Linked DNA regions of Homo sapiens: region 1 is linked to region 2. The links come from fine-mapping of genetic effects on gene expression. A gene starts in region 2. The other region holds a variant in brackets. All regions are shown on one strand. Distances are from middle to middle. Region 1 overlaps LINC02208 (long intergenic non-protein coding RNA 2208). Region 2 holds the start of LINC02208 (long intergenic non-protein coding RNA 2208).

What was found.
Region 1: its variant is fine-mapped to the expression of LINC02208 in atrial appendage (GTEx, PIP above 0.99).

What each region holds. Positions count from the first base shown.
Region 1 is chr5:118,517,330-118,530,109 of GRCh38, reverse strand. LINC02208 (long intergenic non-protein coding RNA 2208) reads left to right here. Exons shown (of 10, transcript NR_104610.1): 2 at 6,296-6,461; 3 at 7,264-8,938. Among named protein-coding and RNA genes, the nearest start is that of LINC02208, 38 kb to the left of the region's middle. The variant T/C (reference allele first, on the strand shown) is at 7,753.
Region 2 is chr5:118,555,053-118,567,832 of GRCh38, reverse strand. It overlaps LINC02208 (long intergenic non-protein coding RNA 2208), which reads left to right and starts at 5,716. Exons shown (of 10, transcript NR_104610.1): 1 at 5,716-5,912.

The DNA of each region.
Region 1 (12,780 bases), 38 kb after region 2:
AACCAAATTACACATTGTTCCACTTATCTAAACAGTAGAAGACAGGAATCAATTGCTTTGGTTTTCTGATAGCACAAACCTAGCTGCAGATCTGAAACAGAATGAACTGGCGTTAGAGTGATAGCAGGGCAGCCTGCCAACAGCACCCTTTCTCAGTGACAGCTAGCCGGTGCTGGGAATGGTCTGCACAAAGGCCTGAGTTTGTAATCAACTGCAAACTTGGACTCTTTCTATTTGGATAGCACTTGCTCTTCTCCAGCTGAAGTGGGTGATTGCATTGGGACTATTATCTATCAAATGCCATGAAGAGCTATTAATATAGGTGGAATAATTGAAGAAACAGACTTGTTGGAAAATGTAACTACTTTACACATCATTGTAAATTGTTTTCCAGGCTATACTGGTCTCCCTTCAGCCATGAAAACATTCGGATGTTAAAAAAAAAGATGCGTCTTGAATACTTAACCATAAAAGTAAATGAGATTGCTTTAGACTGCTTTGTTAACACTGGAACCATCCACACATGGAAATTATTACCTACCCTGTGTTTGCTTGAATGTTGGTAGATATTGTCGTGCCAGCTCTGATGTCTGTTAGTCTAATGTGTACTTCTGTGCAAACAAGTGAACAGCTCAATATCATTTTTAGGAACATTCTTTCATTAAATAATGAATCTTTTCTAAATACCATTACTACTATTTTACATTTTCTCTCTAATTTACGAAGGAGTTTTGAAGCTGGATTGCGTTCATGTATAATGACTCTCACATTGCTCTGAGAGATGAGTTGTGGGAGTGATAGAGCATCTGAAAGCTGGGTCTTAGGTACATCTGGGAAGAGTTTTAAGCAGGTCAGCTGCCTTCTTTACAGTGATTTCTCCATATGGATGGCAGTTTGTATAAAAATCTATCTGTCCAAATTCTTCTTTCTATTCAAGGTCAAGCTCAAATCTCACCTACTTTAAGCAGTTATACTTGAGTAATTTGGTACATATAGTCACTCTCCCTTCTCAGTGAAGTGGTATGAGAATAGGTATTTTCTTAGCAACTACTGTGATGGATTGTCACATCTCATCTAATGTTTACACAGCTACTCAGTGAGGTGGGCACTATTGGGAAATTAGCTGAGGTATGTATGCTCACACACCTGGGAGGTGGAAGAGTCAGGATGTGAATTCACGTCTGTCTAACACTAAAACTCTTTCTACCATACCTTGTGACTTCATAGAACTTTCAATGTGGACAGAGCATGATACATATACTTTAACATTTCTTTTTATACTGTTTGTTTGTATTTGTAGTTGTTTCATATATGGGTTTTCTATTTCTAGCAATGTTTTAATGTCCTTGAAGACAGTTAGACAGTTCTGAGAGATACAAAGAAGAAGACATGACCCCTGCCTTATTGTAGGTTAATATAGAGTATAGACCTGAAAAGAAAGGTATCTCCAAATCCATTATAAGAGGTCTGATGGTGGCGGGGCATAGTGGCTCACGCCTATAATCCTAGCAATTTAGGAGGCAGAGGTAGGAGAATCACTTATGCCTAGGAGTTCAAGAATAGCCTGGATAACATAGTGAGACCTTGTTTGCTCAACAGATTTTAACAGATGAAACAATTAGCCAAACATAGTGGTGGTGCATGCCTGTAGTCCCAACTACTCAGGAGGCCGAGACGGGAGGATCACTTGAGCCCAGAAGTTTGAGATTACTCTGAGCTGTGATGGCACCACTGCACTCCAGCCTGGATGACAAAGGTCTGATGGAAGGAAGTCTATGGAGGATACCGAGGCAACACAAAGGAGGAGATGGTCTCTTCTACCTGTGGAGACTGGGGTAAGAGTGTGTGGGAGTGGAAGAGAAAACACTCCAGGCAACAAGAAGGCATTGGAGGTATGAAACAGCCAGGTGTGGTGCATAAAGGCAAAAAAGCTAAGATTGGTTGGATCATGCATTAAAATGGCAGGACTAGGGGGTTAAAGAGAAGAGGCTAGAGAGAGAGAGAGTTGGGAAGAAGGCAGGAAATAGGTTTCTTTAGTGCTTACTGAGTTTGAATTTTATTCATTTCTATGCCATCAAATGCTTTTAATCAGGGAAGCAATATAATCCAAACAAAGAATTTTGATTAAGTCTGTATACAGCAGGGATGGATACTATTTGAAAGGTGTTTGAGTAGTAGACAGGTGGGCAGTTGAGAGACTTTTGCAGTTGTCCTGGCAAGAGATGATGAAGGCCTGGATTAGATGAGGAGCAGTGGGAATGGAAGGTAGTCCCTACAGTCAAACTCAGTGTATTGTTCTACTGTCAACTACCTTGAATACTTCTTGTGGGCAGGAATCATTTCATATTTTCAGTTAATGTCACAGTTCAATTCCAAGCACATGAATCCCCTTTTAAATTTTCCCTTTTTAGTGCATTTACTAAAAAAATTCTGCAAAGGATCTGAGTTGGTATGACTTCAAAGCATACAAATGTTTTTGCGTTTGAACTGCTCTATGGTAGGAAGTGAAATTTAGCCCTGTTTCCTGCCATATCCCCATGTGGGCAGAGTTACTATCATCATTATTTGGTTTTGGAAGCAGTGATTCACAGATGAAAATAACCTTGGAATTCGAAAGAAAAATCGGGAGGAAAATCAGAAGTATTACCAAAATAATTTTTTCTTCTATCAGGACTCTAGCTATTTATGTTTTCATATAAGTAAAACTGAAATATAGTAGCAAGTGTTAAAGCAATTTAAGTGTTTCAAGCTCTTAACTGAGTGTCCTTGAAGCCTATAATGTTTGTGGTAGGTAGTTCCATTGCTGTAAATCTGTGTTGACAGGTGCAAATTTATACTAACAAATTAATAACACAAGTCAGAAAAATAAACCCCAGCTCTGAAAACATTGTATTAGCTATAGAACTAATAATATCAAGAAAAAAAAACAGATCAAATGCTTTCTGACCATTTTGTCTCTTGATTAGACTGAGCTGTTTATAGATGAAATTATAACACTTGGTATTTTCCTCACCTGTGTTTTTCACTTGTGGAATTTATTCATCACATCTGTCATGATTTGTATATCTAGAGAAAAGTTTTAAAGGTGAACTAAAAACTTAAATATACAGCTATGACAAGGCTTCACATTCTGTCTCTGCACTGTGACACTTTAAACCTCCACAAGTTATTTATCATCCAGTTTCCAGTTTCTAGGTTTCTTCTTTAGACCTGTGATAGCTTAGTAAGTGAATATTTTCTTGTTTTACGTCCTCCATACTAGATCTCTTGAATCTCCTTGAAAGAAGGGATTATATCTTGTTCAGCTTCGATCAGTTTTTATTAATAGTAGAATGTTTTGGCATCTAATAGGGTCATTTAATCAATACTGGTTGAATAAGAACAGATGTCCCCTCTTTTAGAAAAGGGAATAGTTGTTTTTGAGGTGAGCAGATGTCCACTCTTTTAGAAAAGGGAATAGTTGTTTTGGGTGAAAAATGTAGGTATGAGTAAACTGAATCGACAGAAATCATTGAGAAAGTGGGAAAATGCCTGGCATGATGTATGATATGTTGAATTTTATGTTTACTGAGTTAGGCAAAAACACCGTTAAAACCATTTTGATGTGGATCTTAAGGTTTTTTGACTTCTGAAGTTCTAGATGAGGAATAATTCTTTTTAAAAAATAATATCACTTAAAATTCGGATTTGTAAGAACAACTGCTTATACTTCTTTCCTAAAAAGAGAAACCCTACAAAACCTTAATTATATATATAGATAGCTATACTCTGATGGTTCACATGCATATCTCACAGGTTATGTTGTTACCTCTATGTCTGGTAGGTAGAGGTGAAACAGCTAGGACACCAATCATCCCCTCGATCAACTGGACTACACTATCTTTTCAGGCTGTCTGGACTACAGTCTCCATCCTCTCCTCCTGCTCCATGTGCAGTCTGCCTGTGCTAGTTTCCTCCTGCTGCGGCAACAAATGATCACAAACACTCTGGCTTAAAACAACACCCACAGTTCTGTATGTCAGAATCTTTGTAGGTTTAATAGGGTTCTCTGCTCAGGGTCTCCCAAGGGCCAGATCAAGGTTTCCGTCAGGCTGGACTCTTTCTGAGAGGTTCTGGGGATGAATCAGTTTCCAAGCCTATTCAGATTGTTGGCAGAATCTTTTTTTTTTTTTTTTTTTTGCAGTGTGGAACTGAGATTCCCATTTCCTTACTGGCTGTCAGCTAGGGTCCACTGTCTGCTACAAGGGCCCCCTGAGTCCCTTCTCATGTGGCCCCCTCCATCTTTCATCCAGCAGTGTTACACTGAATTCTTCCTCTGCTCTGACTCTTTCTGACTTTCCCTTTGCCTTCCTCCCTGTCATAAGCCAGAAAACGTTGTCTGGTTTTAAGGGCTCATGTGATTATATTGTGCCTACCAAGATAAACCAGTATAATCTTCCCATCTTAAAGTCAACTGACAAGTGGCCTTCATTACATCTGCAAAGTCCCTTTTGTCATGTAACAAACATACTCGTGTGTGATATCCTGTAGTCACAGTTTCTGGGGGGTAGGGCAGGGCATTTTTAAGAGGCTGCCTTAGAAATCCGTCTATTGCACCCCCTAAAAAACAAACAAACAAACAACAACAAGAAAAACTTTGCCAGATAGAGGCCAGTCAGTCTTCCGTAGAGGGTATCTATGGCTAACAGTCCATTAGCAAAATGCTGTCACTTTGTGTAATGCCCCTGTGAATTCCTCTTAGGTCTATGTTTCAGAGTAGTTCCTGGAACTGAGACTTTCTATTATATTTTATTAATATCAAAATAAATTACCTAGCTAACAATAAGAGGACTAAAACTTAGGGCACATTTTCTGTGAATATATGAACTTTTTCATGCACAGAAGGTATCAGTTAATTTTATGGTCCCTCAGCTATGTTACTGGTACTTATAACACCATGTGCCATGTAAATACCTTTGAAAATGTCATACCATGGTGTAGCACTGAATAAGAACATGAATGCAGATGACTGTCCAATCCCAGGCAATAGAATTAGGTGGTGGAAATTACCACTTGTGGATAAAGCTTCTTCTTTTTTTTTTTTAATCACAAGCTAGGACAGTTTTCAGGAACAATTCATATTTTATGAAGAGCTGTCACTGAATATCCACCATCATCATCAGCTTCCAGGTGACAGTCAAGAGAAGTTGTTTGACTTTTAGTAACTAATTCAATAAGGAAATTAAAAAAACCCAACAATTGTGATCACATAAGAAGCGCAGAGTAAACACTTGGAATTATACTATCAATACTAAAGTTGCTATATAGAAAAAGATTTGAAAGTATGGCTTAAAAAGTGTGGCATCATGATGGTATGATGGCCAAAAGTGATGATGAAGAATCTTTAGACTTTTGAAATGGAAGGGCATTTCTACTCAAACTGACTTTTTAAATGTAAAACGCATCTTCTAGATTTATTTTTATTATAAGTGAGACAGAGCTAATTTATATATAAAATATCCACACTGCTCTTTATGAATGGTTTTCTGTTCATTTTCACATTAGGAGTTTTATTACTGATCGAACTGATCTTGATACTGAAGAATAAAAGGGTTACTAGTTGTTTAGTATTTATCAGTTAGTTTTAAATTTAATTGTGTATCCATTCCCCCAAAAGGTGTTGTTAAGTTGCTGTGTCTTACAATTGATGGGAACTGAGAAGTGAATAAGAGAACACAGAGCCACACATTAAAAGTGCCTAAAGACAGATACAGGTAGTATCTGTATGAAATATTTGACACAAAGAAATTTATACTATTTTATACATTATACATTCCCCCCCCGCCACTCACCCCATTGTCTGTTTTTCAGGCTTGTTTGTTTTTAGGGTATGTACTTTGGAATGAGAAAGGAATTTTATAACAGTAAAGAAGGCATTATACTGATTTATTAAAATTTAAAAATAAACTGTAAGTGGTATAATATGGATGATTGGATACTGACCTGAGAAGAAATTTCCATATGTAACTTTTAATGACATCGGTATTATGACCATTGGTGAGATACTGTATTCTGCAGACATTTTTCTCTCTCCAACATTGGAGATGATGGAATCTTCTCTACATCTTCCTGCATGAGACTACTTGTAAGAACAAAGGTGGTTGGTGCTTATTTAATGCACCGAGTTCTTTTGTAGGGAACCTTTAAATCACTATTTTGATTTAATTCTGAATCAATTTTATTCTTGAACCGGGAAATCATATTTTAACATGAACTTGCAAATAGTTCAGTGCTTCACTCCCAATTCCTATTTCAGCATCCTTCACCGAAGCACGAAGCAGAATCAAGCTGTTGCCATGAAGCTTGTTTCAAGAGCTCAGAAATACTCCAGGGACTCCTTTACTACTGCTTTTCAAAGAGGCCTTTTTTTCTCTCTTCTCCTTTTCCTGCAAAGAGGGTTATATCCAGTGCTCAAGGACATGGTAAGGCCAACAAGGACTGGAGGAATCTCCAGGACTATGATCTCTTGAATTGTGAAATGTGACATTCTGATTGCTAGCCTGCCTTTCTTCCCACTCCACCAAATTGTAATACTTCTTTTCATGCTACAGTTTTGTAAAACTTTACTGTGTAATAGAAATTGTCTATTCATTTTTAAAGAACTACACTCCCAGAGCAATTGACATTTGTTTTGTTTTAAGTCTTCTGTGTAAAGGTTCATCAAATTCCCATTAAAGTAACATTTTTGGACTATATTATCTGTTCAAAGATCTTAATTGACATAAAAATTTTCTAATTAATGGGCTTCAAAAAGTGTTTTAATCTGTCAGTAAAGTTGACTTTTACTTCAAATATATCATGTTTAAATTTTTTTCCTCTGTAAGGTAGGAGCCAAAGATTAAATATTTTTAAAAAGCTTTAAAAAGCCTGTATTGATATTACTACTACTAATTATAGATAGGGATGTAGGTCCAAAATTAGTACATGGATTTAATGCGTTTTCAGTAAAGTTAGGAATAAAAATAACATCACATATTTCATTTTATTTGAGGTAGCCAAGAATAGCTATTTTCCTTTAGAAACTTCAACAGAAGGAAGCTTTTCAACTTCATAGCATTCTTAGGGAAATATAACTGTCCTGTTTCATAGAGGACATGGAGTAAGAGAAAATATGCTATTTTTTTTAAGGAGGCAAAAGGAGGCAGACTTTGTCAATTATATTTATGTTCATTCCAATAGATCATAAGATTTTCTTCTGAAAAGAATATTAATCTCATTCTACAGGGATTATCAGCCTAAGGCATGAGTACATGCTGTGGAAACAGAAATATGTATGAAGGGATGTATGAAACCACAGAATAAATGGAATCCACATTCTTGAAGTAGCTACAACTCTACTTGAGGGTAAGTAATTAAGTATTTTAAAATGCAAAAAAGTATATATTATGAGGTAGAAACTAAATCTTTATTTTTAGGATAAAACATTTGAATTCAAAGGGACTTTCAGCATGTCGGGAAGCAAGTCTGACACAGGAATAATGTCCTCTGAAGCAAAGGCTTTTTCAGTGGCAAAGCTTAAGAATGCTGATCTGCATGATGGGAAAATTTAGTGTTGGCACAAGAAATTAACTAATATGTTTTTCTGTTGTCTGAAAAGGAAAATAATGCTTGGCTTCAGGTATTTGGAAATACTGCACATTCGGGCTAAGAATGAGATGACCATTTTCTCATTTTCAACTAATTATTTCAAGATACCAAAACAAAACAAACAAA[T/C]GCCATTGGTGAGTACCTGCTATATACAAAATGAGCTGTATGTAGTGAAGTGGCCAGGAAAGGCAGAGTTCACAGCCATAGGTAGGGCAGGCCCTGGCCACCCTTTAGGGGAGCAAGAAAGGTAAACCAGGTGGATGAAACATATCCTATAGCATATTGTAATTGGTAAGTGGATGCAAGTGGTTTCTTAGCAAGTCAGAGGCATCGGGCTGTCTAAAAGAGGTAAGAAGATTATACTGACAGAGAGGTGGAGCAAACAATGAGGTGTCTGGGAGGAAGCATTTGAAGAGCTGCAAGGAGGTCTGATTTATGGTAGAAAAACTGAGTCCCCAGGAACTGGGGAAGTGACTGGCAAGAAGAGGACAGGGCTTCTAGTCTAGAGGAATCAAGGCATAGGACATATTGCTTACCTAGAGATTCAGTCAGGGGTATGGGATCCAGCCTGGGTATAGTTTTTGGAAGGCTGCTTACTTGATTGGGTTGGAGTGGGACTAACAGCAAGTGTGATTTGATGCTGACCCTTCAGTACTGGCCTGCGTAGCTTACAACAGTTACCCTGTCTAAGAAGGAGATTGATTCCAGAACCCAGAATAAAGCAGAGAATGCAGATGGTGGTCACATGGGTTCAGGTAAGGAGTAAGGAAAGTCACTGGCCCTTCTCCAAGTGCTGTGCAGGTGCAAAAGTTATTTAATTTTCTGTTTCTCTCTTGAATGAATATGCTACCTATTTGGTGGTATAACACGTAAACTCATTCATATTAAATGTCAATACATGCTTTAATGTTTTAATCAATAAATGTACTAAATAATTTAAATTTACAAGGGATTTTGGAAACAGATCCAACTTTAAGCATGGCAGGAAATTGATATTTGGACAAGGAATGTTAGCACATTCTTAGATCATACTCAGATTTAAGGTAAGACTACTCTATTTTTCAAACCAATCTAGGTATATAAAACCAAATCTAGTTAGAATGAGAATACTAAATTAAACATAAGTTTGTTATTCAGATATTCCATGTAGAACTGTGGGATGAAGTGCAATCAGCTGTGACTGGTTGGAATAAGGACCTGCCTTATCCCATGGAGAGTTAGAGAATCTGTTCCAACAAGGACAGAAGGTCCAGGTGGGAAGAGCTCTGGAAAACAAAACTCTCTGACAGCGCTCTTGAAAGCTCTGCTGGCAGTAAGTATGTACTTGCTTATGATAGATTCGAGCTTAGTGTGGGAATCAGGATCTGAACACAACTCACCCCCTTCCCTGTCCCATTCAGTTGACGCTCTTGGGGTGTAGCATGCTGCTTGCTGCACATGAGTCTGTGTTTTGCTCATGCCTGGCAATAGCTGCTTGGAGCCTCACCTCTGGAAGCTGATGATTTCAAGTATCCAGACCTGTCATGATGCTGTCCAGGAGGGGGGTTAGGCTGTCATCATCTATTAGACAGCCCCCAGCTGACACACACAAGGCCAGTTACTGAGTGCCCTTTTCTCTCAAGCTTTTGATTTGCATCTTTGGGTAGGAATTGGGATAAGACACACATTCAGAATCCAAATTGAGGCATTCAGTTGCTCTCCTATGCTTGGTTTAATTTGTTTATTCATTATCTTGTAGTTTGGGCAGAATTTGCAAAGATTTTACAATTTCATGAACTTGCATGGAACCATTGCTTTCTTCAGAATGACTTTTCCATGGGTCATAAAAACTGAATGGCTGGGCACTGTGTCCTCATATTCATTGACAAGAAATTTAAGTAAACTGGATGAAGCTAATCTTTCTTACTTGGGACCCAGTTTGAGTCTTCAGCAGAAGAATATAAGGCCTGCCTCTGAAGTGCTCCTCTTGCCATAAATCGGGTACATGACCATACCTTTACGAGAAACTAAGACAGATCCTGACCTTTACATCATGGAGTTTTGGAGTTTTACCTAAATCACTTCTTGCTGTTACTCTGCTGTTGACTTTTTGTCACTATTGTAATAACTAGGCTTCAATCTTGTGGAAAATTTTGACAAAATGATTTTTGTCTTCTGCTCTTCTGGGTGCTCCTATCTTTTTTTTTTTTTTTTGTCCATATACTCACTCTCCCAGCACTGGGGCCCAGGAGTATTTATAGGTGTCACTTACCCACTTTGCCTTCTTCAGTAACTGCATCCCATGCCTTCCCCACTTGCAGGGATGGAACACATGACCCAGTTCTGTCATTCATGTTTCACAAGCCCTTGTCATTGGTTTAAGGCTAGGCATGTGACACAGGCAGGTTCTATCAGAGTCAGAAGGAGAGCACTTTTGTAGGATCTACCAAGAAACCCGTGCTTTAGTTTATGCAGGCTAAGATAGAAGAAGCTGCATGATCTAGAGCTTCAGCAACCATTTCTGTGACATTGAAGGTAACTGTTAAAAAATGAAGCCAATATACAGAGGAGAGTAGAGCCAAGCAGAGGAGGACAGATGGAGAATATTTGGTAACATCATTTGGGTCCTTTCATGCAGCCATGTCTTAAGCCAACTCCGAGCCAGTTTATTTTCTACTTTGCTTAAACAAATTTGCATTGAATTTTATGTATCTTCAATTTTGCAAAAGGCTTAACTAATGCACCCTGCCAGTGATTAGAGTCTTGGCTGAGAGTTTCAAAAAAACATGGCTGGGCTTGGCTACTTGCTGACAGCCTGCTTGATACCACCTGTGGCCTGGTTCTCTGACCATCCCCACCTTCATATTTTCTGTGCTGGGTTTATCCCTATTGAGACATCCTGATATTTCATATTCAACCCTGATGCTCTTTTGCAATCTGGATAAAATTCCAAGACATAGTAACTATGTTGCCCCCCAAGAGTATTTTAAAAAGGCTTAATGACTCAACCAATAAATTGTCTCTTTAATAACTCAAAGAAGTTTCAAGGATTTTCACGTAACTAACCCTGGGATACATAAATGTATTAAGGTCAGTGGCTCATTAGTTTTTCCTTTTCTATTGTGGATGTTGTTTTATCATTTTACCTTCTTTGATAGTGGCCTTTATGACATTCTACTTGGCTGGCAGGCAACACAGTAACTGCTTTTAAATATAAGAGATGCTGAAAGGGATTTCTGTAATAGATTTTATTATAATGGGATCAGAATGGCAGGCAGGGCCGAGAAGAAGTTAAAGGCAAGGCAGCCACATTGTTCTTATTGCCTATAGGTAAGCATTTCGTGGTTTTCTGAGAAACTAAAGATGACCTGAGAAGTAGGACTTAAAGAAAGCATATTGAGCTCAGTAAACTCTTAAGACTCTGGTGATAAGATGAGCAAAGACAGGCCTAAGGATATTCTCCTATAGACCATGGACTTTGTGAGAATGGGTGTTGGTTCTGGGAGTTGAGCCGAGATTCAATCTATGTACCGGACTGAAGGACAACTTTAAACCTTATAGGAATACTAAAAATGCCCTGTAGGGGCAGTTTCCATTCTACTCCATGTGTTAAAAGTGCCTCTTTTAATCCTAGTTAGACTGTTTTAATTGGAATGATCTTTCCTCAAATTCTTCCTCTTTATGGTTTTTTTTTCGATCCTGAGTGCATAAAGAGTCTTCATGGGTTAAAACAAAACAAAACAAAACTCCTTACAGTGAATTGAGAAGCAACTGAAGTCTTCTTCATTCCCTGACCTCTTTCCTGATTGCTTCCACCTCTTTCTCTTGCCCTATACCAAGGTCTTCTCTGCTTTTTGATTCTGATCCATTATGTAAAACATTTCAGCCCCAGTGATAACAAAGCTAGGAAAGAAGCTTGCAATATGAGGGGCAGAGGGGTTCCTGGGTAAGTGGGGTGGCAAGGGCTTGATATTCTTAATGGAGAAAGTCTTAATAGACAATATGAAATATAAAGAGTTTTGAGAAAAGGATGGTCATTGTGATTTGAATAGAGAAAATAAGAAGGATTTTTTGAATGTTTGCGTTTTGGAATATTTGCATATATATACATAGAATGGATATCTGTGGTTGAGTCCCAAGTCTAAACACAAAATTCATTTATGTTTCATATATATCTTATACACAAAGCCTGAAGGTAATTTTATTCAATATTTTAAATAATTTTGTGCATTTATCACATGAGGTCAGGTGTTGACTTTTCTACTTGTGGCATCATGTTGGCACTCAAAACATTTTGGATTTAGGAGTATTTCAGATTTTGAAGCATTTCAGATATAGGATTTCAAATTAGGGATGCTCAACCTGTACTAGGAAGATGGGCCAGGTAGAGACGAGAGTCTACCTTTGTTTAGTCTAGCTAAAGATTTGTCAATTTTGTTTATCTTTAAAAAAAAATACAACTTTTTTGTTGATATGCTAGATTGTGTTTTTTAGTCTCAGTTTTGTTCTTTTGAAAAGATAAACAAAATTGACAAACCTTTAGCTAGATTAATTAAAAAAAGAGAGATTACCCAAATAAGTAAAATCAGAGAAGAAAAAGGAAACATAATAACTCAGACCACAGAAATACAAAGAACCATTAGAGACTATTATGAAGAACTGTACACCCACAGACTGGAAAACCTGGAAGAAATGGGTAAATTCTGGTAAACATACAGCTTACTAAGATTGAAACATAAAGGAGTAGAAAACTTCAGCAACAGTAACAACAAAAAAATAAGCAACAAGATCAAAACCATAACAAAAAAAACTCCCATCAAAGAAAAGCCTAGGATCCGATGGCTTCACTGATGAATTCTATCAAGCATTTAAAGAACTAATACCAATTCTACTCAACTCTTCCAAAAAATTGAAGAGGACGGAATATTTCCAAAATCATTCTACAAGGTGAGCATTACCCTGATACCAAAACCAGACACAGATGCAACAAAAAAAGAAAACTACAGGTCAGTATCATTGATGAACACAGATGCACAAATCCTCAACAAAATACTAGCAATCCAAATCCAGCAACACATTTGATAATGTTTGGACATGTGTTCCCCCCAAATCTCATGGTGAAATGTGACCTCTATTGTTGGAGGCGGGGTATAGTGGGAGGTATTGATCATAGGG
Region 2 (12,780 bases):
GGCAGGGCCTTTATCCAAAATCCTAGAGATATCTGCTATGATTCACCTATGGTGGCCTACCAAAGGTTCCAAACAACATCCCTATTTGGCACTGACACCTCAAGTCCCATTGGATCTGCTGGATCATATGGCCCAAGTAGCAGAGCAGCTCACACAGCAGCCTGGACCTGCTGCAGAGCCTTCTTCTGTTCTGGACCCCAGTCAAAACTGGAAGCCTTTCAGGTCACTTGATAAATGGGCCAGAGTAACACACCTAAATGAGGAATGTGTTTTTTCCAAAATCCGAATAGGCCCACTAGGCGTTGGGCCCCTTTCTTGGTTGTAGGAGGGGCTAAATGCAGCAACTTATCCTTCACCTTAGAAGGAATATCTGGACAGGCCCCACACCACTGGACCCCTAGAAATTTTGCTGAGGTAGAAGCTCCCTGAAGTTTATTCGGATTTATTTTCCATCGTCTGGCAAGCAAATATTTCACCAGTAAGTCCAGTGTGTTTCCTACTTCTTGCTCACTGGGTCCAATCAGCGTAATGTCATCAATGTAATGGACCAGTGTGATATCTTGTGGAAGGGAAAAGTGATCAAGTTCTCTCCAAACAAGATTATGACACAAAGCCAGAGAGTTGATATACCCCTGAGGTAGGACAGCAAAGATATATTGCTGGCTTTGTCAGCTGAAGGCGAATTGCTTCTGGTGGGCCTTATGGACAGGCATGGAGAAAAAGTCATTTGCCAAATCAATGGCTGCATACCAGGTACCAGGAGATGTGTTAATTTGCTCAAGCAATGAAACCACATCTTGAACAATACTTTGCATCCTTCAGTCAAGTTGACACTCAATATTAATCATCACATACCCCCTTGTCCATACCTGTGTGTGTCTATAGGAACATTCCGGAACGCAGCGGCTTTGGTAAAGCCTGATCCCTGGGTCATAGCCCAGCTTAATGGCATGATGACTGCAGTTAATTAACCCATCCATTTAAGAGACAGAAGCAAGAAGCACATTTCTGAGCTCCAGACAGTTTTGAGCATCAGAATAGTTTTAGAGAAAGTAAGATATTTTGAAATTATACAGTGATCTCTATTAAAGTGATAACAGCTGGTACCAACTTCGCAAATCATGGAATTTTTTAAGAAAGATCAACCGCACACTTGTGAAACCCCGCCAGACTAATATCATCAGGGATTATAGGAGAAGCACTTACTACTGTCAAGTCAACACATAGCCTAGTTGACCTTTTATAAATGGATGAAAATAAGTTCAGCAAACCCCAGCAAGATATATTGAAAGATAGGCTGGAGGTGAATGGTAGGAGGTCTGAGCAATTTCACTAACCCAGCCAATCAGCAGTAATTGGTAAAGTGCCTTCTCCCCTGAGAGCCTGGGGAGATGTGTGGCTGCCGATTGGTGAGCTGGTGATTGCTTGGAGGGTTTTTATCGACTCTCTTTGCTGCTTTTTGGGTGTATTTCTCCCACGAGCTTTAACAATAATGCCCATGAATCTGAACCTCCTGACTGGTAAATGTTCTCTGGCCTTGACAATAAGTGTTTCAGCTTTGCTTCAATGTTTGTTTTCTGCCAGTGCTGTGGCCTGGATGCCCTGCAGTATCTATCTTGCAGCCTGAGGCCATTATTGGGCAGCACGTTGCCATTTTCTCCAGCATTATTTCTTTTAAATATTTCTCACTGAAAATGAGTCACTTTGAGATGATTACACCATAGTCATCTGTGGGATCCATAAGCAGTTTTGTCAGTGTGTGTCTAATTTTGGTCTCCCGTTCTTTGTCCTATGTAAGGCACATCTAGAGGGCCCATCTTTCTCTGGTATTTGGATACAATTCTTTAACCAGTGATTTTACTTTTTCCTCTGCTCACTCCCAGCCAAAAATCATCATTTACTTAGATCCCATGGTATGAAACATGTTTCACAATTGTGAACCTAAGCTTGGTACTTTAACTGAGCACACATCTCACAGAAATCCCGGAGTGGCCTCCCAGGAGACTGAAATCTAAGGGCAACAGGATCAAGCCCTCACAATGAAATGGGACGCAGGCTGGCCCATCTTTCTCTGTGGCTAAGTAATGAGGCTTGTTATTTACAGTGCCCTGTTTACTTGCTGACTCTGTTAGCGTTTTTCTTTTCAATTTGGATCTCGGCCCACATGGTAACCCTCTCACGAGGCACGTGCCATTTTGATTTTAAAATAATAGGAAGAATGCTCCAGCGCTGCTTGTTGGTGCTACGACTCTCAAACTGTCTATAGATTGCCAAGTAAGTGGAATGTTTTGACAGAGAGAAATATGTGTTGTCAACATTGCTTTATCCATGGTTGAGAAGAAAAATTGAAACGACTTCGGCAGGGTTCAGACGTTGATGACTGGAATGATCTCCTTGAAACAAATGACTACAGACCATTTTGTTTTCCTTTACGCCTCATTCTACTCTAATGAAATGCCCAATTAAAAGCATAGCTTATGTGCTTAAAAGAAAAAGCTTAGAAAGGATTCTTGGATGGAGCTGTGCCCGCAGTAATCCTTCACCACAGGAGAAAATCATAGTATCTTTGTAAAGAAACAATATCATGTTGTGACTTCCAGTGGCCTGCATGGCAGTTTTAGAGGAGACCCAAAATGAATGTAACCTTTTTAAGATAGAAAGGTTGTGTGTGTATTTCTGTGTGTGCCTGTGTGTGTGTGTGTGTGTGTGTGTGTGTGTGTGTCAGACAGACAGAGAGAAACATGATTTATTTGTGATATATCAAATGGCAGACACTGGTTGGAAATAGAAAAGAAAAAAGAGTTCCCAGTAGAGTGATACATTTAGGACAACTTGTGAATTTGTCTCTGGGATTAAGCGGAGTATGGAACTATGCAGCTGTGTGTTGTCTCCTAGCAAAATGAGGTTCCCTCTGTTTCTCTGGCAGGCAAGTTCCTATCGAAAGCTTATTGGGAGTGGGAACTCAGACAGCTTGCAGAGCCCTGCTGACCATTATCTTCACGTTCAGGTCTGCGTTGTGGGAGCTACTCTCTATTTTCTTGCTTAGTGAACACTCTTGACAAAAGAAAATGTTGACAGCTTTGCCTTTCTTGAGAATCACTAAGGAAACATTTCATCTTGTCAATCTCCTTTCATGTGCTGTGCAGGAGAAGAGAAAGGGAATATTGCTTTGGAGCATAGCCTTGACTTTCAACATGCATTTAACAATTAATATTTTCTTGAGCACCTACTATGTGCTAGAGTATTTGCTAGTCATTACCAGTCAGACAAAGATGAATGGAGCTAAGTCCCTATTCTTAGAGAGCTTAGCACATTCTCATTTTAAAATCAGTTGCCTCATTAGAAGGGCTATAAAAGGGATGCAGATAAAGTAATAAGGGAATTTGTATCATTTGGACTTCCTCACGTGACCCACTCCATGGCTTCTGGAACTAGGCAGATCTGAGTTTGAACATTATTACCCATGACATTGGCTGGCACAGTGTATTTTAAGCTATGTCTCCATTTCTGTCAGTTTTTAAATGAGGATAGTGACACCTACCTTGCAGGGCTGTTGGGATGAGTAAATGAGATACTGTGTGTACAGTGTAAAGCAGTGCTTGGCACAGGTGAGTCCACCTGGAATGGCAGCTTCCTTCCTACCTCCTTTATGCCACGCTGCATCCCCTGTCAGTCATACAGATGCCTCTCACAAACCTGCCTGCACCTTACAAGTGAACCACAAGCATTAAGATGGCTTCTTGAGGCTGGGTGTGGTGGCTTCCGCCTGTAATCCTAGCACTTTGGGAGGCCAAGGTGGGTGGATCACTCGAGCCTAGGAGTCCAAGAATAGCCTGGGCAATATGGCAAAATCTCAGCTCAACCAAAAAAAAAAAAAAAAAAAAAATTAGCCAGGCGTATTGGTGTGTACCTGTAGTCCCAGGTACCTCGAGGCTGAGGCAGCAGAATTGCTTGAGACTGGGAGGCGGAGGTTGCAGTGAGCCCAGATGAAAACACTGCTCTCCAGCCTGGGTAAAAAAATAAATAAATAAAAATAAAAATAAATGGCTTCTTCAACTGTGTTGTAGCTCTGGCATGTAAAGAAATCTAACACATGGTAGTGACCATATAATAGTGAGGATGTTTTTTAAAACTAATTTTCCAAAATTTACATGCAAATGATTCTTGGCCTCTTTAAGGAATGATAATACATGGGAGGCGTTAGTCAGAGGCTACCCACCAATATTCTGGCCTTTCTCCTGCCAAAAACCTGGCACGGTTCTACTCCTCCAACACTGTGGAAGTTGGGTATGCCATGTGACTTTATTTAACTAATGGAATGTGAGCAGACGTGACTTGTGTCACTCCCAGGAGAAAGCTTTAAAAGATCCACTTACACTGCCACCACCATCATGGAAGCAAATGTTGAGATGGGGCTTGTGTCAGCCTAGACCTGTGCGATATCACAAGGAGTAGAGTCCTTGTGATAATCCATGTGAAAAATACAGCAGGGGTGAGAAATTGATTTTTTTTTTTTTTGCATTGTATCACTGAGATTTTGCAGTCTTTTGTTCATGGTCTGCCTAGATTAACATAGGAGATTATACACCTATTTCAACAATTCTGTTTTTGCTTAAAACATTGAAGTGATTCTTCTGGTGGTATTGCTGTCAGGGGCAGCATTTGACAACCACACTCTCAGTGTAAAGCCATACTTGCTTTCTGCCCTATAGTAGTATTGCCAGGCTTGACCCTCTGTTTTATTCATTAGATTTGACTCTGCATCTGGTGAAAAGAATAGATTGGACATCATTGAGCCTATTGGGATGAATACACCCTTCAGAAACAGTGGCAGGCAGAGGCTGGGCAGCGGGGGATATGAAGGCAGTTTACCCAGGGTGCAGGCAATAAGAAGATATATTGTCTATAGAAATGTTTAAAGAAATAGAACTGATTAAGATACAGTGTCTTTTGTATTACCATCACAAGTCTATAATTCTAAACAATTTTAGGGAGAAAATACTCCTCCCTTCCCCACTCCTGTTTTCCCCCCTCCTTGCGCAACTACTCAGAAAGCAGTTACAATGAGATTCAAAACTTGAAAAACAGAACTGTGAATTAGAATGTGTTGCCTTATTATGGCAAGTGTTTTGAAATAGATAGCTTTCACGTGGAATATTTATTTAAAAGAAAAAATAAAAATTATTCTATTTTAGGGTTGTTCTTGGTACATTAATTTGGACATTGGCTTAGGAATTTGTAGCTAGTCATATGAACGTTTATGTAAATCTTTCTGTCTAAATTGTTATATCCGTGAGGGCGGGGCTGGGCCTCATTCATCCTTAGGTGTTCATGGGGTCTGGCCAGTACTGTAGTCCGGTACACATAATTGCCCCCCATATATATATATATGAGTCTATATATATATATATATATATATATATATATAGTATATATATATATATATATATATACTATATATATATATATATATATATATATATATAGACTCAAACTAGGCTGGCAGTGAAATGATATTTTTCTTTTGCTTTTTTTTCAGTTATGTGTATGAGAAGCAGGGCGATATCTCCGGCCCACTTCTTTGACAGGTTCTCTTGTTGCTGATGCTGAGAAACTCCAGGAGCCTGCTATTTGTAGAGAGAAGTGTGTTCCAGCTGCTGGTGCTAACAAAGATCTGAGGTTATACACACATGACCTATCACCCACACCCACCCGATTGGGAGGGGTTGCCTCTCCCTGTGTCCACACATATGCCTTGAGTTGCTCTTCAGTGAATATCACTTTTCCTTTCATGTTTTTTCTACATGCTATTATCTGTATGAAATGAAGACCAAGAAAGGATGGGAAGAAGGAGAAGAAAAATTTTGATTTATCTCAGAAACTATACTCCGAAGTGAGAGTCCTGGTTGCAGGTAGGATTTTGTTGGTGATCATTAGAGGGATGAGGGCTGAGAGAACAATTTGAATGTTGCCTATTTCTCCAGGCTGGGGTGGGAGTGGGAAATATGAAGGCAATTTGCCCAGGGTGCAGGCAATAAGAAGATATATTACTTATAGAAATATGAATGAATATAACACTTATAAAGATTATATAGTTGGGATTGGCCCACAGTAGTTGATAATAACGAGAAGTTCTTGGAGACCAGATCATAGTGAACTTGGCCTTAGGGAAATAATTATCGTCTTGAACTCTGATTGTTTTATGGGTAAGTTATGGCATTGAGAGGTGTGTGAGGGGATGCTTAGGCCAGAAGGAGTCTTTTTACCATTTTGAATGTCCACCTTAATGTTTCCTGGGTGAAGTTCCAAGATTTGCAGGGAGCATGCACAGCCTCTGGCCTGTATGGAGTCCATCCCATCTTCCAAGGGTACTTGTAGATGGAGATTAGTCTTGGGTAGGCCATCTTGTGAATTGGAGCCAGTGTTCAGTGCTGGACAGATGTCAACTGGAACTTTCAGATATAGCCCAAGTTCTGGGACTATGAGAAGCCAAACAACCCAGGAATTTTCCTTTGTACTATTTTCCAGAAAAGGGTAGAGTCATTTTTGAGCTCCTGGGGTAAGATGGTAGAATGCAGAGAAACTAGAAAGTATCTACATTTCTCTATTGCAAGCTCTGTACATCTAGATTTGACAGTAAGAATTTGGTTGACTGATATGTAAGTGCTTTTGCACTTACAGACTCGACATGAGATTCAAATGAAAGGGACACAAATGTTTGGTTTTGCTTTTACTCCTTGAGAATAAATCCTGGACTTTACAAATATCCTTTCTAGAAAGAACAACTGAGTGAGAAACCCTAAACTGATACTGAATAAAGCAAGTATGTCTCACAGAATATCTGATTTAAAAAAAAAATTCCTGCTTTAGGAAATGTGTGTGTGTGTATATATATATATATACACACACATATACATATCTATACATATATGTATACACACACAATCATACATATATAGATTATATATGTATCTATATATATTTCTTGGATGTCTTATATTAAGCTTTGGTAGATAAGTGGACTTAGGGACCATAATTACCACCATTTTCCTTATAGAAAGTCTTTGAGTAACTTAGACTATGATCTCTTTTGTTTTTGTCCATTTGCCATTTGTTATTCAGACAATACAACCCCAAGCATGACCTTGGGCACGTTACTTAACAGTTTTAAGCCTGTCATCTATAAAAAGTCAGGGTTGGACCCAGTGACTTCTGAGGTCCCCACTTGCACCAGCAGTCTCTGATTTGGTTGCATGGGGAGACAGCTGTCACAGTTGAAGCCATGTGTGCCTCTCCCACATCACTCCTTTTCTAGAGCTTGCATTTTCCTTAGTGCCTGAGAAATACCGTTTTATAGATGCATGCCTTAGAACGGTATTTTCTCTTTTCATTGTAAAGGAAGGTTTTAGACTTTGCAACAAACGTTCTGGATAGAATGGACAATTAAAAACATGATTGAAACATGATTTTTAGGTATCCACATTATTTCACAAGCTCATTCCTTTCATCTCTACTTTGTCAAGGATTTAGGCAGCTTGTTTCTTTGACTTTCATCACATATCTTTTTTCCTTCCTGTTCAAAATAAGCTCTGTTTCCTTTTTCCTGGCTAGATGAAAGCCTGTGGACTCTGTGCTTCCTGATATCAACCCAACAGTGGTGGTAGAGGGGTTCACATCACTCCAGATAGTCAGTTTCAAAGAATAATAGTTTGGAGACTGTGGGATGAAAAACCAGCTTGAGTTTTCCTCTTCAGATCTCTCCAATACACACTGTCTATGTATTATTTCAGAACACCCATTCAAAAGTAGACTGTTTCCTTCCCTGACTTGGCACCAAATCAAGAAGTGGCATATAATGTATTGTTGTGTTTATTATGCATCATTTTGCTGCTGACACTGTGGCCATCAAATATTGGAAGATTTACAACCACAGAGGTCCAGCCATCATGCCTGAAGTGAAGGACAAAGTACTCTGTTATTCATCTTCAGCTCTGGCCCTTTATGATCAGACAGTGAGCTATATACTTATCAAAGTCAAAATAACCTTCACTTTAGAAAACATAGTTGTCCTTAATTGCCAGAATAGGAATGCATAAACAGCCTCTCTCTTGATAATGGAATGGAGGCTGAATTGATGTAAGTTTTAAGTATTTTGTAATTTTCCAATTGTGGTGCGCTCAATTAAGTTTTAATTCACAAATTATGCATGTATTATACTGGCAAAGAGAAAAAATATTTGTAGTTTTAAACTATACTATCTAAATATGTTATACACATTTGTGCCATGTTTTTGTTTTTTTTTTTCCTCTGAATCAAAGCTATGGCTGGTAGTCCTATTTCTATGCCCTGGTATATAGCAGTTTAGAGCTTGGATGCTGAAACTGGAAAGATGTAAGTTTGAATCCTTGGCTATCCCTGGAACACAGGCAAATGCCTTAGTTTATTCCTCTGTAAAAAATAGTAATAATCATAATAGTACCTACCTTCTAGACAGGAGTATTAAGAATTAAGTGAGATTGTGTATGTTGAAAGATGCTTAGCTCAGTGCCTGGTACATTATGAAAACTCAAGGAATATTTGCCATGATTGTTATTACTCCTTTCTTTCTATTATTGTTAAAAACAGCAGTCCAGAGAAAACATGTATTTCCAAGACCTTCATATCAAAGAGGCAGGAATGAAATGTTACTAGCATTTTATAAATATATACGTATGTTATGGTACTAGGTGGCTTTTGGGAGACATGTAGTTATAAGAGTGAGACAGAGATGACTCAGAAACCAGAAGGCAGCAATGAAAATAGTTCTTACTTGAAAAGGCATTTGTTTAATATGCTTACTCAAGATATATCTTACATAAGATATAAGATATATCTTAGAATTAGTTAAATCTATATAGTGGCTATATGAGCATTTAAAGTTACAGATGTTTATTTGGAAATAAGCAAGTTTTAATATGTGAATAGTAACCCCATGTCTACAAGTTGCAGTGTGGCCAAATGTAAATGGCAGAACAAATTTAGGAAATGAGCTCTAACTCTATTTTGGGAAAGACAAGGGGAATCTCTGGAATTTGGTCTTTGTTCCTAGCTAAGACCTGGAGGTGATTTTAATTGACAAGTATCTTCTGAGCAGTAAAATCAGGATGACAGCATTTGCTTTCCTGGGTGGTAAAAAATCCTCTCTAATAATGGTGGGTGAGTTGCTGGTGAATGAAGAAATGGGCTTGAGAAATGCTGGGAAATAAAATGACTGGCAACTTTAGTTTCAGAGCAATAGGCCTGTGAGTTTTCTTCATTGTTATTTTTGCTGTTCTTTCTGGTGTCATTGTAAAATTAAGTATAGACAAATGAACTGTTAATGGTCTAGAATTTCAGACCAATAGTCTGCCCAGAAACCACAAGACAAGCAATAGGGGACTCTATTTGATATGAAAATTACAGTAGGATTATTTTTATCTCTTCCTTTCCCCTCTTTCTTCTTTACCTCTTTAATAACGACAGGTAAAACTGACACCAAAAAACAAAAGTCTTACCCAAATCCATTGTAAAGTTCCCATTCAGGTGTGTATTACATAAAAATTGCTTAGCTTTCACAAGAACCACCCTTCTGAGAAGAAGAACCATGATGCATATTAATAGGTGAAGAGAGCTTCCTTGGGAAGGACCATAAACCTTGGAGGCCATAAACTCTGGAATTGGATTCCAGAATGAAAGAGCTATGAAAGCCCAGAGGGCAGGCTAAGTATGTGTTGGGACAAGTAAATAAAATGTTTTGTCCTGAATTGCAAAGTACAGTCAATTAATTGTCTACTGGGCTCTGCCACCTCCACCCCTGTTTCCTTCTTGTAGCCTACTTGTTGCTTTCTGAGTATGACCCTGTAATTAATGAAGACTATAAAATTTAATGAAATGGGGTAAAATTTTGGCTGGATAATTTTTTTTTAGTTTCATTATAAATTTTAAAGGGATGTCCTTGGCCAGTGTTTTGAACTGAACAAGAAACTGTCATCAAATTAATGTGTTCACCTTCAGAGGTGCGGCTCTCTCCAGAAGGTCATGCCTTGTGGACATAGCTGTCTTGTGGGGCTGTAGGTGAAGCCCCACTCTGGCTTTTTCTACGTATACCCAAGAAGCCTAGAAGCAGTTGAGAATCAGCAATATGAAAGTCAGCTTTCCAAATGGCCTCCCTCTTTCCTGACATTGCAATCTTAAAATGCCTTTGTCTTTCACAATCTTCATAAGGTCACAAAGGAGTGTTTGTTACCAGATTTATAGCTCTGATATGTTCACATACACACTGGGTCCCCACTAGAGGTTCTGCCAAGCTCTGGGGGCCCCACATAGGCCTCCCACAGTTCAGTCGCCGCACACATGTTTTCTGAGAGAACTCGGAGCTGCTGTCTATGTGCTCATTTTCAGTCTATAAATCCTCCGCACTTCTGTGACTGTTTGCTAGGCCTCCAGCCAGTACTATATTGTATGTGTGAATGCCACATTTCCCTAGAGAGCTGAGCAATCCTGCCTGGTTGGTGTGGACAAACCCCCAGGTGCTGAATGGGGATGGGCTTTAGCTTGTACAATGCTTTCCTTTGACCAGTGTTCCAGGGAAGAGGCCAGGCTCTTTGTGTACAGATGCATTGAACTGCCCCAACAGTGGGTATATGAACGTTCTGCTTTACCTGCAGAAGAGGGTGATGTGTTTAATTTGCTTAGGGTTTAATTAAGCTGCAGACACTTAAAAAAATTCGTTAGAATGACTGGGCTTCCCACGGTTGGCAGTAACACCGTGAAGTCATTTTCTCTAGAAAGTCAAGGCGTTGCTTTAATAAAGAGTTGACAGTTTTGGATGAGTCCTTGGAGACAGAAGAGAGAAAGGCCACATATTAGTTTTAGTCACATGACTCATTTTTCCACTGAGATTTTAACAATTAGTAAGCTCTTCACATTTAATATTCTGAAAGCAGAACAAGCCAGTAGGGAACTTGGGGTTGAAGGGGAAGAAATAGACCATGCCAATTTGTCCCATCATCAATGTAGGACACGAAAGTTAGTGAAGTAGAGGTGAGGGGTGCTAATCAAGGGGAAAATGAGGCATCCCTGCTTTGAATTCCTCACTTAGACATAGAGATGGTACCTGTACAAGCTCAGGAGGGCAAAAGGAGGGCGGAAGGGAAAAGGGTCTCCAGGATAGATCCTGGACCTATAAATAGAGCTTATTACTCTTGAGTAAAACAATAGAGCTCCCCTCCTACTTCATTCAACAAGTCCTTATAGATTTCTTGCTCTATGACAGAGATTGTGTCCTGGAGATCCTGGCTGGTCATTTTCAGTCACGTCTGCGTCTTTATTAAATGTTTCCATCGGTCCACATGTGCTAGGTGCTCCAAGAGAGTTAACTGGAGCCAGCAGTGGCCTCCCTGAATTTTGCAGAAAAGACGAGATGGATATACTTCTATTTCAGTGTTCAGTGTTTAGAAATGAGCAGTCTTGCATTGTTATGCAAATTCCAAGGTAATAGAATGTTTACAAATTACAATAGCTGCAATTACAGGAAAATTTTTTGGCACTTATTTATGTTATTGTGTTCACTGAAGATTATAGCTTGTTACTTTCTGTTCTAATATACTTTACCCACTTAAGTCTTGAAATAGAAACGAAATGCTGGTGTATCATTTTGCAAGAAAGATATATATGTTTCTTATATTGCATTAGACAGGTTAATATGTTTTTGCATTTTATAACAGGGAACTTTATTAGCATGATGAAATTAATGCATGCAGGGCAATATCTTCCGAACTAGTTGTTACCAGTAGATAAAGTCTGATGTGGTAATTGCTAACTGAATGTTGGATCAGGGTTATTACTGAAGTAAAATCATTCACTGTGGGATGATCAGAGCTACAATATTGTGAATGACAAAAGAGCCATAGCCACTCTCTGGTTTTAATTAGCTAAAGAGGTGTCCTGGGTGGTTTTGAAAGGCTTGTCTTATCAATATTGTTACTTAGAAATGATTTACAATATTCTTACACGGTCTGCTAATGTTTCTATCATTAAAGGTCTATCATTTCCATTATGAACTCTGTTGCTGAAGGCTTTGCAGGCATGGCTTAAATATTTATTTCAATACCGTATGTGTGTTTGTGTGTGTGTGTGTGTGTGTTGTGTTTGTGTTTGTGTGTCTGTTTACAACATTTTCTAAGGTCTTGAAATTCCAGGAGTGGCTGTTTATGGATGTACCATTATTGATCTTATTTATTCATATGACAGTGCCCAGCTTCAGTCCCATGAAGAGATATAAGCCTAATTTTTTCAGAGGAAATGACTTCTCTGCTTTATCCATTGATTTTTTAAAAAATGTTTGAAAGTGAGTTTTGATTACCTGAAAATCTGCATGAGCAGATCTGATGTAATATACCTTCTGCCATTTAATTATTTGGTTTGTTCTAACAGTAATGCTTCAAATGTTAATAAAATTTCCAGAAATGTTTATCATCTGAGGTGGTCCTAAGTGAAATGTTCATATTTTCAATTCCTGAATAAATACAAACGGAAACATTTTTGAAGGAAAAAAACGTTCTTTCAGAGGTTACTGCTTACATTACAATGACTACATGCCTGAGAAACCTGTTTGCCAAGTAATATAATCATGTTTCCTGGTCCCTGCATTTACACCATTACATCGTTTCCCAGGTGCAACTGAAGGACTATGGCTATGGTAGCTGCCCAGGAAGACTGGCCATCCGATTCATGCTTGTGCAGTCCTTGGACTTTTAGATC